2 separate regions of the Homo sapiens genome follow, and region 2 is linked to region 1. The links come from fine-mapping of genetic effects on gene expression. A gene starts in region 1. The other region holds a variant in brackets. All regions are shown on one strand. Distances are from middle to middle. Region 1 holds the start of PPP3CC (protein phosphatase 3 catalytic subunit gamma). Region 2 overlaps PPP3CC (protein phosphatase 3 catalytic subunit gamma).

Region 1 (11,894 bases):
TAGAATATAAGGGTAACTAAGAAAGATACCACTTAGGTTAGGTTGAAAGTTTTAGGCCTCAGTTTTGAAATGTAAAATGCTGCTAAATTTTAACATTAAGACTATAAAAGGCAGGGCGCAGTGGCTCACACCGTAATCCCAGCACTTTGGGAGACAAAGGCAAGAGGATCGCTTGAGCCCAGGAGTTCAAGACCAGCCTCAACAACAGGGCGAAACTCCACCTCTATAAAAAATACCAAAATTAGGCCAGGCTCGGTGGCTCACGCCTGTAATCCCAGCACTTTGGGAGGCCGAGACGGGCGGATCACGAGGTCAGGAGACCGAGACCATCCTGGCTAACACAGTGAAACCCCGTCTCTACTAAAAATACAAAAAAAAATTAGCCGGGCATGGTGGCAGGTGCCTGTAGTCCCAGCTACTCAGGAGGCTGAGGCAGGAGAATGGCATGAACCCGGGAGGCAGAGCTTGCAGTGAGCCGAGATTGCGCCACTGCACTCCAGCCTGGACGACAGAGCGAGACTCTGTCACAAAAAAAAAAAAAAAAAAAAAATTAGTTGGACACGGTGGCGTATGCTATGCCTGTGGTTCCAACTACTCGGGAGGCTGAGGTGGATCACCTGAGCCCAGGAAGCTGAAGCTGCAGCGAGCCATGATCGCGCCACTGTACTCCAGCCTGGGCAACAGAGCGAGACCCTGTCCCCCACCAAAAAAAACTATAAACGGGCATTATAGTCTAGTAATGATTGCACCAAAGGATGGTAATGATTCTAAGACATCCCTTTATTCCCATTAGTCATTTAGCAATTAAGTAGCAGCAAAGTTCCAAAATGACTACAAATCCCGGAATTAAATGAATAATTTTGTCTCTAATAGAGACATGTCTAAAAATCAGCTTTTTTTTTTTTTTTTTTTTTTTTTTTGAGACAGAGTCTTGCTCTGTCACCCAGACTAGAGTGCAGTGGCGCAATCTCAGTTCACTGCAACTTCTGCCTCCCAGATTCAAACGATTCTCCTACCTCAGCCTCCTAAGTAGCTGGGACTACAGGTGTGCACCACCATGCCTAGTTAATTTTTGTATTTTTAATAGGGACTGGGTTTCGCCACGTTGGCCGGACCTCAGGTGATCCACCCACCTCGGCTTCCCAAAGTACTGGGATTATAGGCGTGAGCCACCACGCCTGGCCTAAAAATTAGCTTTTTCCAAAAATGTTACCTTAATAGAAAGACATTCAATTCCTAGTATCAAATACTGCTTAGGAAAAGGTCTTTAATTAATTATTTCACTTTAAGTAATGAGTCCTTAGCATTTTTCTCTCAGAGTCCCTTGTTTTTTTCACTTTACAGTAAGATGTGATTAGTATGTTACTTTACAAATATGACGTTAGACGCCAGAATAATGGTTACAAGTGTCATATTTTCCCCACTGTTGCCCATTTAGGGATGGAAACCAGTGGACTGAACGTGAACTCATGCTTGTTTCTGGGATTCTGGTAATCTATTTATTTTGGTTGAGTGGTTACATGGGTATGTGGGTGCTAAATTTGTAAAAACTCACTAAGCTGTACATTTATAATTTGTACATTTTCCCATATACACTCCAGTAAAAGTTATGGTACACTAAAAATTACGTAAGGCAAAAAAAATTTTTAATCCTATTTTAAAATGCAATAAAAGAGAGAAAGCTTAATTATCAAATGTCAGACCATAAATAAAGCTTTGATCACAACCAATAACGTATAGGTAAGAAAGAATACTTTATCCTTGCTCAAAAAGAAAAAAATTAAGTGTTTAAATTAAGATGCCCTTTCAGAGGTTCCAGATTTCTACTCAGATGTATGAATCTCGATTAGCACTGATTTTGAATGTTTCAAAAGTTTGGCAGCTTGTTAATCACAATGGTAAATGAAGCATAAATTAAACAAATACTGTTGACAAATCCAGGAGATATCAACTTTAAAACGTATTCACATTGAAAATTTATACTTGAAAATGTTTCTTCTGGGTTGGTATTGTATCAAGTGACTAATGTGTCCCCACTGAAAATATAAAGAACCAAAATATTAATATAAGCACTCTAAAACCATTTCCATGCTGATTGAAACCATTATGGAAATATTTAGGTAAAATTACAATATTTATGTTAAAATAATATGAAATATTTGCATAACAAAAGCTTTAATATGTGTGATCCATTTTCCTTTGAATTCAAAATATACCTGCAGATGGAAACACACAAAGGTATTAAAAGCAGTTATTTCTGCTGGGAAGGAATATGAAGTCTTTCTTTTCTTCCCTTTCTGATTTTCAAATTGTATAAGTAGCAGGATTAAGCTTATATTTAAGAGAAAAAATTTTAAACCCTCGGTAAATCCATTATGGATATAAAAAAGGGAGAGTCGGGGGAGAGTTGTGGAAAGAAATGAAGTATAGGTACCAGAGATTGAAATCGGGTTTAGGGTATATTTGTAGAAATAGCAATTTTTGTCCACACTAATATTAAAATATTTTAAGAAAGCCATAAGCACAATATTCCCAGTGCCACGATATTAAAGAAACAGTAGCCTGCCATGTGTGGTAAAAATGGTACAGTACTCTGTGAATACACAATATATTTGAATTCTAAGAGAAAGGGAGAAATGTATCAGCACCTTACTAAAAAGAAATCTGACTTTTCTGTTAAACCCCATCTGGCCATAAAGTAACAAAATAAGACAATGGATTCTCTATATTTGTCATGTAATTCCTACTGAAATTTCCTTGTTGCTTCTGAAAAGATTCATTCCAGGGAAATAAACTGCTTTTATAAAAATCACTGTCAAAGAAAAAACATGTCCTTAAACAGGAAAAGGAACGTGGAAACTAGAAAAAAAAATAAAGCAGACAGAATATCACAATTTAATCATTTGGGTGCCTAGTTCTCTGGCTTAGATACCAGTTATGGTGCCCCAGTGCATATAAACTGCTCTAAAGGCTCACAGAAATGCTACTTTTAAAGCAAAGAAGAAATGAATGAGCAACCTACTAGGGTACATTGCAGATGGCACTCAATAAACATTTAATGAATGAGTAAAATCATAAGAAGGTTTAAACATAAAATAAACACCTTCAACAGATAGAGAAGAAATCTGCTGCCTAGGGAGTACCAGACAGAACTGTGCTGATCTCTTCACATTGTTACCGACGAGATTTCACCCACATATCCATTATGCTGTAGAATAGGTATTCACCTGACTAGGAACAGTTTTGTAGCTTATAATTTCACATACTTTCTGATATTTTCAAATGTTAATGATATCTCTACTAACTACTTCTGTAGTAAGCGATCTATTACCAACCTATTATCATGTCTCAAAGTACTACCTTAACTTGACCTTTTCACATGCTTTATGTCACTTGCATGACCCAGGCTTGACAGGGAAGGTATTATTAACCCTATTTTACAGATGAGTTTTTTTTTTTTTTTTGGCTTGAGACTGAGTTTCACTCTTGTCGCCCAGGCTACAGTACAGTGGCACAATCTTGGCTCACTATAGCCTCTGCCTCCTGGGTTCAAGCGATTCTCCTGCCTCAGCCTCCCAAGTAGCTGGCATTACAGGTGTGAGCCACCACGCCCAGCCACATCCTTCAATTTAAGAAAGCTGCTATTTAAAGGACACCTAAAATACAAACCTCTCCCACATACCCACTCTTCTCCAAAATTTGCTCAAATAGAACAATTAGGTACACTTTAAAGTTAACAGGAAATGACAGAAACAAAAATAGCTGGGGTGTGGTATCACCTCTGAAAAAGCTTTCAAGCTGTGAATAAATGCAGACAGCTGTGACTAAACAAGATAGCATCAGACCAGGGTTTAGTACCCGTTACAATGGACCTTAGCTATGCACACGTGACACCTCATTTTCTTCAACTATTTCAAACTCTGGAAAACCCTGAAAAAAGCACCATAAGTCATCATGAAGCCACAAATGCTGTGGTCAAGCTCTTATGCCGAAGTTTTTATATAGGAGAGAAATCCATACATTCTAAGGACCTGAAATTATTTCTATTTCATTTATTTAAGAGCAGTCTTAAAAGTACACAATATTCGGTAATTAATTTTGGTAAAGAACAAATTTGCATCCTGCAGGATATGATGACAGTGTTTATTTAATAATAAGCATGCGTAGCAATAAACCAGCCCCTGCTTTTTTTTTTTTTTTTTTTTTAGAGAGAGTTTCACTCTGTTGCCCAGACTGGAATGCAGTGGCACCATTTTGGCTCACTGCAACCTCCGCCTCCCGGGTTCAAGCAATTCTCGTGCCTCAGACTCCCAAGTAGCTGGGATTACAGTGCCCGCCACCATGCCCAGCTAATTTTTGTATGTTTAGTAGAGATGGAGTTTCGCCATGTTGGCCAGGCTGGTTTCGAACTCCTGACCTCAGTGATCTGCCTATATGGGCCTTCCAAAGTGCTGGGGTTACAGGCGTGAGCCACCATGCCTGCCCCTAGCCCCTGCATTTTAACTTTTTTATTTTATTACATTTTATTTTACAATATTTATTACTATATTTAAGGGTCATTTAAGATTTTTAATCTTCTTTTGATCTTATGGCATGTTATGGTGGAAATTACATGGCACAATGGTGATTTGATTGTGAGATTCCTGAGGGCTGCACTAAGCTTCACTAAGATCCTATTTATTCTGACTTGACCCACAGTTCTGGCTTATCTGGTTTCCCTGCCTACTTCAGCTAAGACGTAGCAGATTAGAAAGCAGTTAAGGGCATATTTTGACAGAAAACAGTACTGGAGAGAGAAACTAAAAGCAAACAAAACACTGAACTGGTATAGCATTGCGAAGTCATTTTAGTACAGGACGAAACTGCTAACAACTTTATACAGCAGAACGCACCGGCCATATTAACAGCACAGTACAGAAATTAATGTACATAATGACCTTGATTCCTCAAAAAAGGTTATGTTAAGTACACTCTGAATCTTAAGAGAGGGCTATATACTTCTTATAGGCTATACACTAATAATATGAAGACACATTTAAATGGTCACAATAATTTAGCTGTTCAGGGGATAATGTCAGTTAGATGAACAATTCAGTTAAACCTCTAACGATAGCATACAAATGCTAAGCAGATAAATCTCAAAAATCCCATTATAATTATGTAGTACAGATAATTAACATTTATGAGGCTGATTTGGGGAGAGAGGGGGGAAACCTAAGTTATACACTAAAATTCTTCCCCCTCCCTGAACATGCAATAAGGCGTTTCACCTTTTAAAAATGTATTCCCGTCACTAGTATTAGTTGCCTTTCTCCTTCTAATACCAAAATGAAAAAGAAGAAAAGTATCTTAATAATTTTCCCCACTGTCACGCTAACCCCTGCATCCAGAGGCCACTAACACAGCTGGTCTAAGTCTATTCCCTTCTTACAAAATAGCGCTTTCAAACCGATTGTTAATCTCAGAGAGAAGGGTTGTGCCTAAGACTTACGGCTGAATAAAAGCAGCACATAAATTAGTGGTTATGTGTAATCCATCTTCTTAGTTTAAAGGGAGAAACAACTATAACCTAAAACTCTACAAGATTTAGAGAGCAAAGAGCCCTTTACATTTTGTTCTTATAACAACAACAGAAATCTAACGCAGGTACACATATGAATCAGAAAACGTCATTCTCCAAGTCTTTATAACCAAAGGGAAAATAAAATACCATTACCCTGTCAAGAGCTCCGTAAACTTATTTTAAACATCATATAATGGATTTATCTGACTTGTTCATACTAAGTTTATTCCAGTAATAGCAGTGACTTGCAATGATCTAGAGAAAGCGGGTCAAAAGGCACATGGTATACGTCCTAAAAAAGGGTGGGGGGCGGACGTCAAGAAAGATCTAATCTTAAATATCTTACTTGGAAGAGTCGACTCCCTGCTCACACCACCCCCGATGGCTTCCCCCGAGTCGTTTCTTAAAGAGAAAAAAAGACAGGGATCCGGGCCCTTCGGGGCGGTGGGAGAAGAAGTCCCCACTGCACCCTGAACCCTTCGGGAGGGAACTTGGCACTGACGGCCAGGCACCTGACCAGGTGCAGCAGAAAACGCCGGGTCCGGGTGGCTGCTCTCGGAGGCTGCCGCCCGGCTCTGTCTACACCCCTCCGAGCCCTCCTAGGGTGGGCGCAGCCCGGCCCCAGCCTCCCTCCGCCCCGAGCCGCCGCCCAGCCGAAGGCCGTTTCCCGCGGGTCCCAGAGGAAGGCCCGGCCCGCCAGGCACCTTTGATGACGCGGTCGGTGGTGGAGAGGTGGAAGCGCCTCCCGGACATGGTCCCCTCGGCCTCCTCCAGGCTCCAGGAGCCCGCCGGACGTGCGCCTACGCCGCGGCCGCCGCCTTCTCCTCGGGCAGCCTTAGCTGCCCGGAGCCGTCAGCCAGCCGTGCCCGGCCCCGGCTCCTCAGCGGTGTCCGAGCACCAGAAGGGCGCGGCCACCGCAGCGCCGGCCTCCGACGCCACTGACAGGACGAGGGCCCACCGGCCGCTCTCTTGGGAGGCGCCAGCGGCTAAGGCGGGGAACACCGCTTCGGCACCGACCGCGACCGCTGCTAAGGGTGGCGACCGGGACGGCCGCGGCTGCTCGCGGCCCGGGCCCTCGTGCACGCAAGCGCGCCCCCGAGCGCCGCTCTCACAACTTCCCAGCGGCCCCGCTGTCCTAGCGGACCCGGCCGGGCCTCCCGCCCCGAGCGCCGCCCTCCCCACCCTTCCGCCTTCCCGCGAGGCAGTAGAGCTCGGCGCACGCGCTGCTCTCGGCTCCTCCGGCTCCGGGTCCCTGCTGCTAACCGCCCATTTTCGCTTCTTCTCAGCCAGCCCTCCCCGCAGCCGGCCCCTTCTCTCCTGCCAGCCCCTACCCGGGCCCGGAACATCTGAAACCCGCCCGCGTGGCCCGCGCGACCCGCGCGGGAGGCCGGCCCGGCCATCTTGCGACCCGGCCCTGCGGCCTCGCAGCGGCTCCGCGCCGCCTCCTGGGACCGCCTCGCCGAGAACCCCTGGCCTCCCAGTCCTCGCCCACAGGCGACCACCCTCCTCACCTCTGGGTCTCCCACCCGCTTTGTCTCAAGGAGTGTGATCAGTCCGGCCGCGCTCCTTCAGTTTTTGTGGGTCATTCAACAAACGCACACATTTAAACCCCCTCGCTTCATCTTTCCCGCTTGTTGAGTGCAGTTAGTACAATGAGAAGGACATTCGTGTCCATCCTAGTTCCAGTCCAGTAGCTAGGGCGGTGGGGGATTGGGGGAGCTCCGTTTCTGAGCAAGGCTCTGCTCCCTCCTCACTTTCCACATCGAAGAGAAGGGAGATCTCTGCTCCTGGGACCCCCGGGCCGGACCTCCTCGGCCACAAGAACTGACCTCTTCCTATGCCCTGTGTGTCACCTGCCCAGCTAGAAGCCCCTTTTTTCTTCCCCCTGACACAGTACCTGCCTCCCCGGCCCAGGCTCACTGTGGAACCCCATGGGCAAGTCCGTAGAAACTTAACAGTCTGTTCATCTCGAGGTTAAAAACTAACCTTTATCTGTCCTTAAAACTGTAAGCCTAGAACAGAAACTGGCTCCAACTGTCCTCTCACTGAGTAACTGGCAAAGTCAAAAGGATTTTGACTTTTAGCAATGCAAATGAAATATTGAAACTGATGTCCAATAAAACATATGCAAGTTACAGGCAAAACCAGTCTTAACAATTACCGCAGTGACCGATAAGTAGTTGTAGCTATGTAAATTTAAATTAATCCCGTTCCTCTAGGGGACTAGCCACATTTCAAGTGTTCAAGAGCTACACGCGGCTACCTTATTGGACATCCAGAAAATTCTACTGGACAGCTGTTAGGTAAAAGATTATAGGATTAAGCGTAAATCTCCAATAATATGGATTTATGTATAGGCGGTCTGGGGATATATAGTGGAATCAGACCCTGAATTATCCCTTGGAATTTTGACCATAGCTCTTTGATGGTAACCGCAGGAGGCAAAAGGACTTTAGGAGCCGACTAGAATTTGGTTTTCGTTTTCATGATCCTTGAGTCTTCCACCCAAGAGAATTGTTCAGATATCCTGGGGAAACTCTTCATTTAAGAAGTAACCAGAACTCCACGCCTATCAAATCATACCCCTGGGTCAGAGGCTAAAATTCATCTGGAAGAACCTCAACAGGATAGCTAAAAATAAAAAGTTTAAGAAAACATTGCGGGCCGGCAAAAAAGAAAAAAAAAAAGACCGGGTGGGGTGGCTCACGCCTGTAATCCCAGCACTTTGGGAGGCCGAGGTGGGTGGATCACGAGGTCAGGAGATCGAGGCCATCCTGGCTAACACGGTGCAACCCCGTCTCTACTAAAAATACAAAAAATTAGCCGGGCGTGGTGGCAGGCGCCTGTAGTCCTAGCTACTTGGAAGACTAAGGCAGGAGAATGGCGTGAACCCGGGAGGCGGAGCTTGCAGTGAGCCGAGATCGCGCCACTGCACCACTCCAGCCTGGGCAATAGAGCGAGACTCCGTCTCAAAAAAAAAATAAAATAAAGAAAGAAAGAAGGAAAGAAAGAAAAAACATTGCGGGCCGGGCAAGGTGGCTCACGCCTGTAATCCCAGCACTTTGGGAGGCCAAGGCAGGCGGATCACCTGAAGTCAGGGGTTTGAAAACAGCCTGGCCAACGTGGTGAAACCCCGTCTCTACTAAAAATACAAAAATTAGCCTAGCGTGGTGGCACATGCCTGTAATCCCAGCTACTCGAGAGGCTGAGGGAGGAGAATCGCTTGAATCCGGGAGGCGGAGGTTCCAGTGAGCCAAGATTACGCCCCGGCACTCCAGCCTGGGTGACAGAGCGAGACTGTCTCCAAAAAGAAAAAAAGAAAAAGAAAACGTTGCAGGCCGGGCACAGTGGCTAATGCCTGTAATCCCAGCACTTTGGAAGGCTGAGGTGGGCGAATCACCTGAGGTCACGAGTTTGAGACCAGCCTGGCCAACGTGGCAAAAACTCATCTCTGCTAAAAATACAAAAATTAGCTGGGCGTGGTGGTGGACGCCTGTAGTCCCAGCTACTCGGGACGCTGAGGCAGGAGAATCGCTCGAACCCGGGAGGCGGAGGTTGCAGAGAGCCAAGATGGTGCCACCGCATTCCAGCCTGGGCACAGAGACAGACTCCATCTATCTCAAACACAAAACCAAAAAACCCCACAAATACTAACTCGTTCAATCCTCACACCAACCCCATTTATATGATTATCCCCATTTTACAGATAAGGAAACTGAGGCACAGAGATGTGAAGAAACTTGCCCAAAGTCACAGAGCTGGTAGGAGGCTTAGTGAACACCATCATCGTCAAGAGACGTGCAGTACCTGAACTTTTTCTATAGCACCACGAACTTTTTCTATAGCACCACGTGGAATATGCGGCATGAGTCCTCAAGCATGGTATACATGAATTTACAGAATCCAGATGTCATTCTGTAGCTTGGCTTTAGCAAAGTAATTGTGAGCAACTTGCAGCCCTGTCCCTTCGTGTCCCCACCCCCACTTTTTTTTTTTTTTTTTTTTGAGACGGAGTCTCGCTCTGTCACCAGGCTGGAGAGCAGTGGCGTGATCTCAGCTCACTGCAAACTCCACCTCCTGGGTTCAAGTGATTCTCCTTCCTCAGCCTCCCAAGTAGCTGGGACTACAGTCGCATGCCACCACACCCAGCTAATTTTTTTGTATTTTTAGTATTTTTAGTAGAGATGGGGTTTCACCATGTTGGCCAGGGTGGTCTCGATTTCCTGACCTCGTGATCTGCCCGCCTCGGCCTTCCCCACCCCTTTCTAAGGAGATTCACTCAGTAGCTCTGCCTTTCTCCAAGTTCCTTGCTGGTCCTCTGTTTCAATAGCTGCTTAGTCTTCCAGCAACAGCCAGTGACACCCAACAGACCTTGATACCATCACTTCCAGCTGTGGGCATGGGTAAGTTCCTTCACTTCTCAGGCCTTGCTTTCCTCTTTTGTAATATGGGGATGATAATATTAATAGGCCCTCCCTGTAGCAGAGGCGGGGATGCCCTGCCCAGATCCCCTTCACCATGAGGGATAACCATCTTCTGGTTGCTGCTGTTTTTGTTTTTGTTTTTGTTTTTGTTCTAAGAGAGAGATGAGGTCTTGCTCTGTTGCCCAGGCTGGAGTGAAGTGGTGCCATCATAGCTCACTGAAGCCTTGAACTGCTGGGCTCAAGTGATCCTCCTGCATCGGCCTCTCAAAGTACTGGGATTATAGGCATGAGCTACCGTACTCTGCCTGTTTCTTGAGGGCTGGTGGCTGACAGTTCATTGCTGCCCCTTCTCCAGAGAATTGCCTTAGGTTGAATGGGCGCCCCTTCCCCTAAGGAGTTATGACCATCCCTCCCCCAGTCCTAGGGGCAATGGCTATCAGGGCCTCCAGGTCAGACTAAGTTTGCCTCAAGGTAAGAATATCTTTGTGGTACAACTCAGGCTCCAGAGCTTGCTGTGAGAACAGACTGAACTATAGGAACACATTAAATGAGGTTCATTTTATTTGGATGTTATGAGATGGCCCCAACTTGAGATCTAAATACAGTAGTCGGTTAATTTTTCCATTACTATTATTGAATAATACATCCCTTCCCATTGGTTTGCAATGTTTTCTTTTCTTTTTCTTTTCTTTTCTTTTTTTTTTTTCTTTTAATTGAGACAGAGTCTCACTCTGTCGCCCAGGCTGCCCAGGCTGGAGTGCAGTGGCACAATCTAGGTTCACTGCAACCTCCGCCTCCCCGGTTCAAGCAATTCTCCCTGCCTCAGCCTCCCGATAGCTGGGATTGCAGCCCTGCTCCTAATAGTTCTCCTCACTTTCTATCTCTGTGTTTGGAAGAGGGCGTTAGATCCATGGATTTCTCCGGGAGGAAACCAGGTTGGAAAGGCTTTGATCTGTATAAGCTGAGACCACCAGAAACCTTCACCCATCGCATTGGTGCTTTCCCATCCTAGTAGAGGTTTCAAAAGACTTTGGGTTGTTTGGGGCAGACACAGGGAACGTGTCTTGCTCTCTGCGGGAATCCATCTCAACTGATTCTGTAATAGAATCAGCTATTCTCAGGGCATAAAGGCTGGGAGTGAATAGGGGCTAACCCTCCGCTGCATCAGCTTCTTAACTGGTCCCTGAGTCTTTGGTCTTGACCTCTTATCTTCATCCATTGTCCACATTGACCCCAGAATCAACTTTTTTTTTTTTTGAGATAAGGTCTCACTCTGTCCCCCAGGCTGGAGTGTCCCCCAGGCTGGAGTGGCATGATTACAGCTCACTGCAGCCTCAACCTCCCAGGCTCAAGCAATCCTTCCACCTTAGCCTCCTGAGTAGCTGAGACTGCAGGTGTACACCACCACACTCAGCTAATTTTTTAAATTTTTTGTAGAGACTCGGTCTTGCAATGTTGCCCAGGCTGGGCTCCAACTCCTGGCCTCAAGCAATGCTCCTGCCTCAGCCCCCCAAAGTACTGGGACTACAGGTGTGAGCCACCATACCTGGCCCAGAGTCAACTTTGTACAGAAAATCTGACTATTGACTCTGCTCCTCATCTCCCTTCAGTGGCTCCCTGGCGCCCTTGGGATCGAGTTTGAACCCTTTAACCTGGCCCAACAGTTCCTTCCCAGCCTGACCCTGACTCACCTCTACAGCTTCTCTCTGTCCGTAGCCCCATGAGATCTTTCAGGCCGGCCACTTGAAACCATTTGCTATGTTTTTTCAGGGCTGCAGCCCTCTAAGGAAGGATGGGATGTGAACAGCAAGGAGGAAGGGAGGTGTCCTAGGTTGGGCAAAGCTGTACAGAGGCATGGGGTTGGAATATAGTGGATATGTTCAGGGCTCCACTCCTTTGGATATTTG
Region 2 (11,894 bases), 98 kb before region 1:
TTTAACATAACTGAAAGCAAGAAAAAGTAGGCAATCTCTAAGCACAAGCAAATAATCCATCATTCAGAACCTTGAAAAAATATCACACCACCAACTGGTCTGACGTCTTGACCACCTCACCATTTAGGAAGGAATACTGGGGCCCCTTCTTGGAAAATGCCTGCTGACAGAACTATTGGGAAAAACAGCTATGGGGGTCACCATGCACTGAGAAAATAAAAGTTAGGGATTTACAGTGTCATCCTCAAAAAGTTCTGTGACAAAAACACATCTTTATTGCCCCAAATCAAGATCTATGACAGGCCTGCTCCTCATTACATGCATTTCATGTTAAGAGTATTTGGAGACATCTACGTCAAGGGAGTGAAGGAATGTGGGCAAGAACTTACTGGAAGGCAGTGTGCTTGGCCCTACTTCAGAGCTGCTCAGAGGGACAGTCCGCCTCCATGTCCTCACTTCTTAATCTTAAGCCACCTAGACTTGCCATGAGGGCATAGAAGAGGAGATGATGCATAACCCTGTCTCAGACAAAGGTGTTATTTAGCAGGTCTTGCCAAGGTGGCAGGGGCGTGAGGCCAAGGCCTCCCGGGAGGGAATATACTCTCCAGTATCATCTTTACCTTTGTGACTGCATAGATGAAGGCAGCTAACACTGACCCCATTCACTCTCGCTGGCTAGATATAGGCAGGTCAGGTCCCAAACCCCAATGTAATATAGGCTCCCTCTTTCACACTCTGTCAATGGCACAAAGCCCTATTGTTAATACAGTTCTCTACTCACACTCAAGATAAGAGTAAACAACACTGTCCTTCGACTACACAACTTTCTTCCTCTACACACATCTGCTCTGACAGCTTTCCTCCAGGCGTCTCATCACAGCAATACTGAAAGGGACTGTGGCAAGCCAGTTTTGGGACCCGTCCTCCAGGTAACCCGACCCTCCTCAATCCACTGCTGGGCCTTCCTAGGCTGTCCTTTACTCACCTTCTAGCAGGTCTCAGAAAAGATGTGGACCCGGTGCCAGACAAGGTGGAAGCCATGGTTATAACCACAAACAATTTAGGAAATTGGAGCCCATACCCACAGATGGGCCCTGGGTTCACCCTCCCTCTGCCATCTTTTCTGCCTGGGCAAGGAAAGCTGGGTAATGCTTTAGGAGAAACTTGGGTTCCACTGTTACTATAACAACTAGAATAAATATTGGGGATTCTAGAATGGTACCTCAACAAGTCTTTATGGCTTAGGAAATAATTTTCAATGCAGAGATCAGAGAGAAAAACCCAATAATTAATAAAAAGAAAAATTATGAAATCAACCAATCTAGGGCAAGCTCTTCCTAAACCAATTTAATTGATTGGTCACCCAGATTGGTCAGGATGAAAATTCTTTTTTTTTTTTTTTTTTTTTTTTGAGACGGAGTCTCGCTCTGTCGCCCAGGCCGGACTGCGGACTGCAGTGGCGCAATCTCGGCTCACTGCAACCTCCAACTCCCTGGTTCAAGCAATTCTCCTGCCTCAGCCTCCCCAGTAGCTGGGATTACACGCATGTGCCACCACACCCAGCTAATTTTTGTTATTTTTAGTAGAGATGGGCTTTCACCATGTTGGCCAGGATGGTCTCGATCTCCTGACGTTGTGATCCACCGGCCTCAGCCTCCCAAAGTGCTGGGATTACAGGTGCGAGCCACCGCGCCCAGCTTGGATGAAAATTCTTAAAAGGTTAAACTTTATAGATATGGTACAGTTGAAAATTTTGGAGATCAGCTACCATATTTACATAAAATAGGGCAGGGTAGAGGGAGCAGATTTTAGCTTTACTCATTCTGAGGCTGGAGAGACTCCTGAATAATGACCATGAACAGCAAGTCCAGCTGTGTCTCATGCAGGCATGGCTTATAATATTTTTCCTATAGAGATCAGCTGTGCCTCAAACCGTGTGTTTTTAAAGCACTCAGAGGGAAGAGGATCTAAGGGACAATGCCAAAAGGCAAAAAAGGCCCCGAAATTATCCAATTTTTAAAAATCTTCCCTTGCTCCTTAATGACATTCAATAATAGTCTATTGACAAAACAAATAAGGGTTTCTCTGTTCCTATTTTGAACAATGTCAGGAAATCATCCCTAAGTTATCAGGATGGCAAAGAAAGCTAATCTTAAGAAGGCAAATCTTTGCTATTGAGAGAAACTTGCTTCATTGAATTGTTCATGGAAGAACCAAAAAAGGCAATGAAAGACATAAAAAATACTGATGTTCCTGGAGAGGCTGAGTCTTTTACTCCTAGGCAAGGAGCAGTATCAAGCTCATCAGAGTGTGATAAGCAATTCTTACCTTGCCAATCAATATCCAGTCACAAAAGACCAGCAAATCAGCAATGCCTCTACTTGTAACCAAAGTGTCACCTTGAGAGTTTAAGGAAAACGGAGGCTATTTTTGTTTTATCATTCTATTAAAGAAACACACACACACACACACACACACACACACACACACACACCCCCTTGGCTTATTGTTTTGCTTTTGCTCTAAACATTCAGAACACGGAAATAAAAAAAGGATATATGTTTTGAACTTACATTAGATGAGTTTTCAAATTTGTAAAAGAAATAATCATCTGATCGATTTAAATGTCCTGTGATATGTATGTCACTAAAAGTGAGAAACCTGGTCCATGTGAAGCATCATTTTCAAAATGGCATTTCAGAAAAGTTTACAAAGGAGTCCTGACATGCCTGAGGAATTGTTTTGTTTTTGTTTTCCTAAATGGGAGAAGTTGCAGAAAAAGAAGGTCCCTGTGGGCCTTCCACAAGGAAGGTCCTGTGAAGGAAAACACAATGTAACTGTTTCCAGTATCTTTAGCACACACAGGGGGAAACATTCAATAAAACAGAAGAGACTTTGAAAACACCAAAACTGCAGAACTTTGACAGCAATTAAAATGTCTGTTTAATCATGGCCCTAGACAGGAAAAGTAGTCTTCGAGCAAACCCAGGGCAGGGTCCAGCCATCTTGGAAGTTGTTGTTTACATTAAAACAGCTACAGAACGGAAGGGATAACTTTATCTTTAGAATTCAACCGAATTTTCAAACTTAACCTCCTCTAAGAGTTAGTGCTGCTCTAAAACTTACTCAGGTTTTCTTGAACCAGGACCACCTACCTCTCTACTCTGGCTGATTCCTCCACAGCTCAGAGGGAACCAGTGAAATACTGTATATAATTTTGTGATGGTTCTGTCAAGGAAACTTGCTTTATCATTCTGCTTTTTGAGACAATAGTGAAGCCATTCCTAAATAATCATCCGTAATAAAATATTATTTTTTGCTTATAAGGATTTACAGTAACTATTTCTACTACTGCCTGCTTATGGAGGCCCCTAAGAGTGGTTTCTACCTGTGGATTGTATATATGTAACAGCCTTAATGAAAAGGAGAAAAGGGATAAGGTACTAGCAGCTCTGCAGTCTGTCACATGGAATGACTTTCATCAGTGAAATTTCCAAAGACAGGATCTTTTCTAATCCTGGGATTGGAAAAGAAAGGAGCATAAGGATATCTAGGTGCTTAATACCCGATTTGAGTTCAACAACAATCAGGAAAAGACAGTTACTAGAGACTTTTCCCCCCTTCTTTCACAGGTTTTACTCACAACCCATTCAGAGATCCTTTATCTCCTTCCTATCTTTTTATTAATGGAGCAATCTATGCAGGCAGATTCCATTCCCTAAGAGTGCCTTGATTTCTGCCATAAACAAATCAGAAACTGTTAGAAAAAAAGGTATAGGAAAACAGAGATAGATGGGCTAAGTCTTCATTCTTCTAATGAGAAGTATGGTTTTTTGGGGAAAAAAAAAAACACCACCAAAATTATGTTGTTCTTTGTTTTTCTGGTTTCCTGGAAACTCCCAATATGAAGTATTACTGTCTGAAATACTTGCTTTAGTGCTAGACTGCCGCATCACAAATGACACTAAGGAATGCCATAAATGTGCACGTTCCATGCTCTGATGTAATGTTCCCAGGCATGTACATTCACTGCAGAGCTGACCAATGACTATTATGACACGGCTCCTGCGATGAGGCTAGTTAAAATGGGAGCCTAAGTAGCCCCAAAATTTCCTTCACTAGTTGGTTGTGACTTGAAAATCAAACTAAGGGAAGATAATTCACACACTACATCTGAACACTTGCTTTTCGCATTCCAAAATATGCTAATGAAGGCTGAAATACCATTCAACCTAAAGAGTAACTGATATAGAAGACAGGAAATCCTCACTTATCCAATGTTCTTTAGCAAGACCTTCAATTCACAAGGGGACCATTGAACTCTTGTCAGTTTCTACTACCCCAGCTGGTTTCAGTAATACTGACAGGGAACAACAGAAGGATGATGGGAAGGCACATGCGAGAGCTGATGCCAACAGCCTAGAAGGGCATATATACATCTTGTTGTAGAAGGTGCTGCTGAGGGCATTTATCAAATATTTAGAAAGTGACTTCCTTTACAGAAGTCACCTGGGGTTCAAAAATGAAAGTAAAATAATCTGGCAATTGTGAAAGCTTTCTGAAAATCTTTCTCCTCCAAAGTCCTAAGGAAATTTAAACCAATCATGCCCATGGTCAGATGAACAGATTTTAAGTAAATCTAAGAACATCCCTTATTATTTTTTATTTTGTTTACTAGAACATATTTAAACGAACTGAGAGTCCAGAGAAAGTAGGTTATTATAGAAAACATTTCCCTTCGCCCTTAAAATCACTGGATTTGGGTTATTCACTTTGAAGTTCTACTATGATCCAGTTTCCCATCAAAAGGGAAGCACTTTTAGCCACTGAAATCTAAGAGGACTTTCTTCAATGGCACCCAGCAGAAAAGGAAAAAAATGAAAAGGAAAAAAATCTTCTTGCATTTGAAACGTTATTAGTCTTACATGAAAGACATTACCTTCCAAAAAACAATAATGAAGACTGACTAGTTCAAGTCAGAAACCCAGGTTTGAGGTTTCCAAGGCCCTTTTATTAGGGGAAGTTCCCCTTTATAGCACAAGACTTCACAAATGTGTTGACAACAATCAGATTCATTTCTTAAAATTATGGAGAAAAAAGGGAAAAACAAAACAGATGCACTTTTTATATATATTGAACATAAATTAAAAGAATTTATAAAACAGCCACCTTTTTACAGAATAAATGCAGACTGAATTATAAATGCACCTCCACGTTGAAGTTGTTTTGAGTTGCTTTTCATTTTCCAATAATAAATAAATAGAATTTGTTCTTGAGTTTTAGATCCACCTGAGCCACGGCAGGACTCTAAGTCATGAATGGGCTTTCTTCCCTTGGTCGCTCCTGTGCGCAGCATGTGAGTGTGCTGAGGTTACAGATTTCATTGGCCCACCAGCGTGTATGCTATCCTTTCGGGGTGGCATTCGCTCATTAATTCGGTCCAGACCTCGCGCTTCTTCAAAACTCCGGATCTTGTGCTGAAGCGAGAACCCTCTGATGGCTACAGAAAAACAGGAAGCAGGTGGAGAGAGCTCAATTAGGCAGCAAAGCAACAGGCTTAAAAAAAGTTTCTTAGCACACAGCAACCTCCTAGAGAAACACACAGAAAGGTGGCTATGGAGCACACGTCTAGTGAAAGTCATGGGCAATGTCTGACTGAATCAGTCTTGGCTGCAGCTACTGCTTCCTTAAAGCCCAAAGGGCAGCTGAAATTGTGAAAGTAATTTTCATAAAAGCTCTATATGCATAATCATGGTAGACATATACCTAACAAAAAGCTAACAAGTACTTACTGGGCCCCAGTACCTTTAAGAAAGAGTGTCTTATGCACCAGAAACATACTCAATGCTAGAACAAAGGCAACACTAGAATAATTGAACAAGTTAAACCCAGGGTAGTTGCTTTTCGCACAAAGGCCACATAGACCACAAAAAAAAGTAACAAAAGAGCTAATCTTTTCGTTTAGGACAGCTTTCTATCTTGCACAACCAGGAGCTGTACATAAGTTAAAAACTTAAAAATAGCTTCTACATATTTTCCTTCCGATTCAACTTTTATAACACCAAGTTAAGGCATTCGCGTTTTGAACCATCTTACCTAATAAAACAATTACAAGTATAATACAAGTTTATCAGTTCCAATGGTTTTCATAGAAACAAAGTTAATTTAACTTGCCTACCTTAGGGCAACCTCAGAAATGAATTGAACTAAATTCCAGTCTACTTCTGCCTCTGCTCTTGAAATCTTTTAGAATCGCTGAAGAGGCTGACCTATTTGGCTCTCTTGAGAATCAAATGGATGTCTCTTGTACATGGAAGGGATACAGAAGTAAACCACTTGACCTCTCATGACCAGTTGCTTAAGCTTCTGCCGTTGCATTAAAGCTGATAGAGCCCAGAAAAAAAACTGTAGCTGTGGTGAAGGTTATTTAAAATTAATGCAAAGATAGGACACAAAGGAAACACCTGCTTCGTTAACATGCCTAGAAACAACTATACCTTTTCTCACTGTTATAGTTCTGGTGATGCAATAATAAAATATTTGAAATGTTGATAAAGCTTCGAAAAACCAGTACACAGACACA[T/A]GGATCACATCTATCAGAGTAATATGGCCATACCTTCCCGGGCCTCTACCGCTTCTACTGTGGCTGTAAGAGGGCAGGAGCAGTAGCATGCAAAAACGAAGACAGAAAAAGAGTGAGTAAACCAACAGCACTGATGGCAGCACAGCCATCCCAGGGGCCCGTTTTTTAGCCTATCCCCATCCATAATGAAAGTCAACTAGTTAGAGAAGCGAGAAGATTATTGCGAGAGACTCAATTGGGGTGGGAGGAATATGGGGTGGGGGAGAGTTTCTAATATTTTTAACATTTCAGGTGCCATGGAACATTGCTCTTTTCATTTTAGGTAGCCAACTGCTACTTTATATCTTGATATCCACGTATCGAAACAACATGTAGAATCAAATAGTTTGACATCACAACAATCCTTAGTTTGTAAAATATCTCAGGTGATATTAAATGAGCTACTGCTGGGTCCTATTCAAAAAGCTTATTTACAACTACATCTTACTGCTCTCAAGTGACTTATTTGGAGTCCAACTGCCCTATTAATTACTTCATTTAAAAAAAAAAGAGTGGCCTTTGAACAGCAGACTGGCATTTGGAAGGAGAGAAAAATAGGTTCCATGTGAAGGGTTATTTCTTGTCCAGGAGTGGAGTACAAAGCTAACAAAAGCATAGAACTATTGAATTCCTAATGCAAATGTGTGTACCCATCTGCTATAAAAATATAGCAGAGGCTAATGTTTCCAATCCATATGGCTTCCATACAGTGTTCAAGAGAGTTGGCCAGTAACTAAGAAAGCCCTCTTCTTTCTTAGCAATGGAAAAGGAAGCAACTTAAAAATTAGTACCAACAGGTAAACTTCCTTGCATCTCCTTTCTCAGACAGTAAAAACGCTAATATATGAAAAGGTACAGGGTGCCACAAGAAAGATCCTATTAGGAGAACCCTGTCAGTTACTCCAGTACCAATTTGCCAAAAGAAGGCAGTGAAGAATAATGAGCAGTAACAGTTTGCTGCTATTCCCAAGGCTTTATATATCAATATGAGAAGAGAAACTGAAAGAACTACATTAACTACCTAATGGAATGTGAAAAATGGATAACTGAAATCTACTTATGAAGTGCTTTCATTTGTCAACCATAGGCAGGCATGTATTAAATCACTGTCACACCCTCTCTAATCTCCTTAAGTAGAACAAATACCCTTGACAAGAAAGCTACAGTGCCTTCTCACAGCACATCACTGATGTAACTGTTAGGAAGTGGGAGAACAAAGCATTGCTGAAACTCTACACTGAGTGTTGGTCTAATTAGAGCTTAAAAGCTACACGGTAAAATGTGTATGATATTACCTTGTTTGGGGCCCTCCCAGAATTGCTATTCACATTGGGTATAAAGATAGCAGCCTGCAGTAAGGGCCATTATAAGAAACAGTCATATCAAATGACCCGAACTTTTGTTTTCCTTTTTAACATCTTAACTGAAATAGAATTCATATACCACAAAACTCACTTGTTTAAAGTATACAAGTCAATGGTTTTAATATAGTAGAGCTGTGCAACCATCACCACAATCTGTGCTTAGAATATTTTCATTGCCCCAATGAGAAATCCCCCACTTATTAGCACTCACTTCCCATTTCCTTCCCTCACCTCTTCCCCTTAATCCTGGTTGAACACGAATCTACTTTCTCTCTAGATTGGTCTGTTCTGGACATTTCAAATGAGTGGCATCATATAATATGTGGTCTGTAGTGACTGACTTCTTTCACTTAGCATAATGTTTTCAAGGTTCAGTCATGTTGACATGTATACCTGCATTTAATTCCTTTTTATGGCTGAATAGTATTCCATTGCGTTTACCACATTTTGTTTATCCAGTTTATGGACAATTGCTTTTTTCTGCTTTTTGGCTATTATGTTGAATGCCATTTATGAACATTTGTGTACAAGTTTTTGCGAGGACATATTTTCATTTCTTTGTGGGGTATGTAGCTATGACTGGAATTGCTGAGTAATAAGTCAATTCTATGTTTAATCATTTGAAGACCTGTCAGAATGTTTTCCAAAGCAGCTGTACCATTTTACATTTCCACCAGCAGTGTTAAGAAGGTCCCAATTTCTCCACATTCTCATCAACACTTCTTATTAACTGCTGTCTTTTCACAGCCATCCTACTGACTGTGAAGTGGTATCCCATTGTGGTTTTGATTAGCATTTTCTGAATGTCTAATGATGTCAAACATCATTTCATGTGCCATTTGTATGTCTTCATGGGAAAAATGTCAATTCAATTCTTTACCCATTTTTAACTGGGTTGTCTTCTTATTCAGTTGTAAGAGTATATTTTCTAGATACCAATCTCTTAGGAGATATATGATTTGAAAACATTTTCAACCATTCTGTGGGATGTCTTTTCATTTTCTTGATAGTACCATTTGCAGTACAGAGTTTTTAATTTTGATGTAGTCCAATTTATAACTGATCTGTTTTAATCTGATGGTCTTTGTGAATCTTGTCCTGTCCTTGGCTTTCCCCACTATTTTGGCTACTGGGATGCTTAGAGTCAAATTTGTGGCTATTGGCTTTATTTTTATTTACCTTTGTGCTTCAATTTCCAAGCATATTTATTTTACTCCACTATGTTTCATGTATACTGTAACTCACGCCAATCCCTCTTAGATCAAGGTGAGACATACATGAATGTATGTTACATGGCCATATGGGATACTGTTGGTTGAAAGCTCTCCAAGTTAAGTTATATGAACAATAAAAGGTCTTTTTTAGTTAATGCTCCAGTTAGCCAATGAGCTGGTGGAACTGAGACTCCAATGTGAAAATAACAAAATAAACTCACTTCCTGTGAATCAATAAGAATAAGAAACTCTAAAAAGTTGGCTCCAACTTTACCTTTGTTCTCACACATTACTGAAGATTTCTATCAACTTTGGAAGTATCAATCAATGGTCCTATCTTGATTAAAACACTCATATTCAACTCATACTTTGGGGCTGAGCCCAAAAGGTGACCAAGAATTAGAAACAAATTTCCAAATAACATAGCTATATAATTCTGTTGCTCAGCCCTGATTTGCAGATTTGCTTTCTCAAGGTTTAGACAAAGTTGGTTTCAATTAAAACAATTTTGTGGATCAGCAAATTTTCATAATGTTTACCTAAGGATGCTATAGGACATTCCTTTTTTTCTCTTAACTCATGTTACTGCCTATTACTCTATCTTTGTTGTCAGAGTTGCTCTCGGAATATCTCAGATGACTAATTACCAAGCAAAGCAATGGTGGGAACATATTCTGCTCACAAAAAACTGCACATTTATTTGAGAAAAATATTCAATCGGAAATAGTTTACTGATACTTTCTGTGAAACTAAAGGAACTAGGAAAATAAACTATACTTCCAAAGAGAAAATGTTCAGACTTCCTTCTAAATAGCTGAACTCTAATATCTCAGTATTCTATTTGAAAGAGAAGGAGGAATTCAATCTTATAAAAAGAAAAAAGGGCTGGGCACGGTGGCTCACGCCTGTAATCCTAGCACTTTGGGAGGCTGAGGCGGGCATATTGCCTGACCTCAGGAGTTCCAGACCAGCCTGGGCAACATGGTGAAACCCCATCTCTACTAAAATATAAAAAATTATCCGGGCATGGCGGTGTACGCCTGTAGTTCCAACTACTTGGGAGGCTGAGGCAGGAGAATTGCTTGAACCTGGGAGGCGGAGATTGCAGTGAGGCAAGATCGTGCCACTGCACTCCAGCGTGGGCAACAGACCAAGACTCTGTCTCCAAGAAAAGAAAAAAAATGGGTTTGTCCCTGTTAGTCAATAGCAATGAAATTTCTACAAAAGAAAAAGGACTCCTATAAATGGCAGGATGGCCAGGCACAGTGGCACATGCCTGTAGTCCCAGCCACTCGAGTAGCTGAGGCAGGGGGATTGCTGGAGCCCAGCAACCGGGCGCTGCCATGAGCTATGACAGTACCTAGCCATTACATTCTAGCCTGGGCAACTCTGTCTCTTGGGAAAAAAAAAGAAAAAGAAAAAAGGCCAGATGAACGATGAGGTGGGAAAAAAACTAAATAGAAACAATTCAACAAAACAAGGGGAGCAAAAAAAGCAGTTAAACTTTAGTTTAAGATATTAATGCTTCAATACCAATTTTCATACCTAGTGTTAGTCACCCAGTAATATGATCTCCTGTCTCTTCCCCTTGCATGTTTATTCTCACGAACATCAACCTTTTCATTCCGGGATTCCAGAAAGCCCTTTCCTAAGAAGTCAGCTCCTGGGTAAATTTCAGAATTGGTACTCTGATTGAAGAGGTGATTTTGGCACTGGAATAGAATATGGCTGCAGGGAAAGAGGCAAACTCCCTCTCTGATTGAGAAACTGCAACCCCCTCAAACTGTTTTCTTTAAGGTACAAAATATACACGAGGCACAGCAGGTGCACAAATCTGAAGTGTACAGCTCAACACATTCTTACATAAGTATACGCATGTCTAACTACCACCATGATAATGATACAGAACATTCCTAACACTCTAGATGTTCCCTGTGCCCTTCTGGGACAATATTCTCCCACCAGAGGAAGTGACATTCTGACTTTATTATCACTGATTAGTCCAATGGTTCTTAAATATTATATAAATCAGACAGTCTGTGCTCTTTTATGTCTGGCTTTTGCAGTTTTCTGTAATGTCTATGAGATTCAACCATGTTGTAGCATGTGTCCATAATGTGTTATTTTTTATTGCTGAGTATTATTCCATTGTATAAATAGAATACAGTTTATTTATTTATATTTCGGAATACAATTTATTTATGTAGTCTGCTACTGATGGACATCTGGGTTGTTTCCAGCTTTGAGCTATTATGAATAAAGCTACAGTGAACATTCCCATGCATAACCTTTGGTGAACACATCCAGTTTCTCTTGGATATACACCAGGTGTGGAACTGCTGGGTTACAGGGTAGACATATGTTTAGCTTTACTGCCCAGTAGTTTTCTAAAGCGCTTGAATCAATTTACAAGCCCTTTAGCAACATACCTAGTACTAGTTCTCCACAAACACACCAATACTTGGTATTGTCAGACTCTTTTTTTTTTTTTTGGAGACAGGGTCTCGCCCTGTTGCCCAGACTGGAGTGCAGTGGCACAATCATAACTTACTACAGCCTCAAACTCCTGGCCTCAAGTGATCCTCCCACCTCAGCCTCCCAAAGTGCTGGGATAACAGGTGTAAGTCACCATGCCCTGGCCCAAACTTTTAATTTTTAGCCATTCTAGTGGGTATGTAATGGTACCTCACTGTG

Evidence for each region.
Region 2: its variant is fine-mapped to the expression of PPP3CC in whole blood (TOPMed, PIP above 0.99).

What each region holds. Positions count from the first base shown.
Region 1 is chr8:22,435,832-22,447,725 of GRCh38, reverse strand. PPP3CC (protein phosphatase 3 catalytic subunit gamma) reads right to left here and starts at 6,648. Exons shown (of 14, transcript NM_005605.5): 1 at 6,268-6,648. The coding sequence starts at 6,316. RefSeq lists an enhancer at 3,093-3,252 and silencers at 6,126-6,785, 6,876-7,065.
Region 2 is chr8:22,534,221-22,546,114 of GRCh38, reverse strand. It overlaps PPP3CC (protein phosphatase 3 catalytic subunit gamma), which reads right to left. Exons shown (of 14, transcript NM_005605.5): 13 at 6,617-6,646; 14 at 4,990-5,500. The coding sequence ends at 5,313. The region is part of intron 1 of LOC124901905 (a long non-coding RNA gene); the gene reads left to right. It also overlaps a transcript of SORBS3 not described here. Among named protein-coding and RNA genes, the nearest start is that of SORBS3, 12 kb to the left of the region's middle. The variant T/A (reference allele first, on the strand shown) is at 6,584.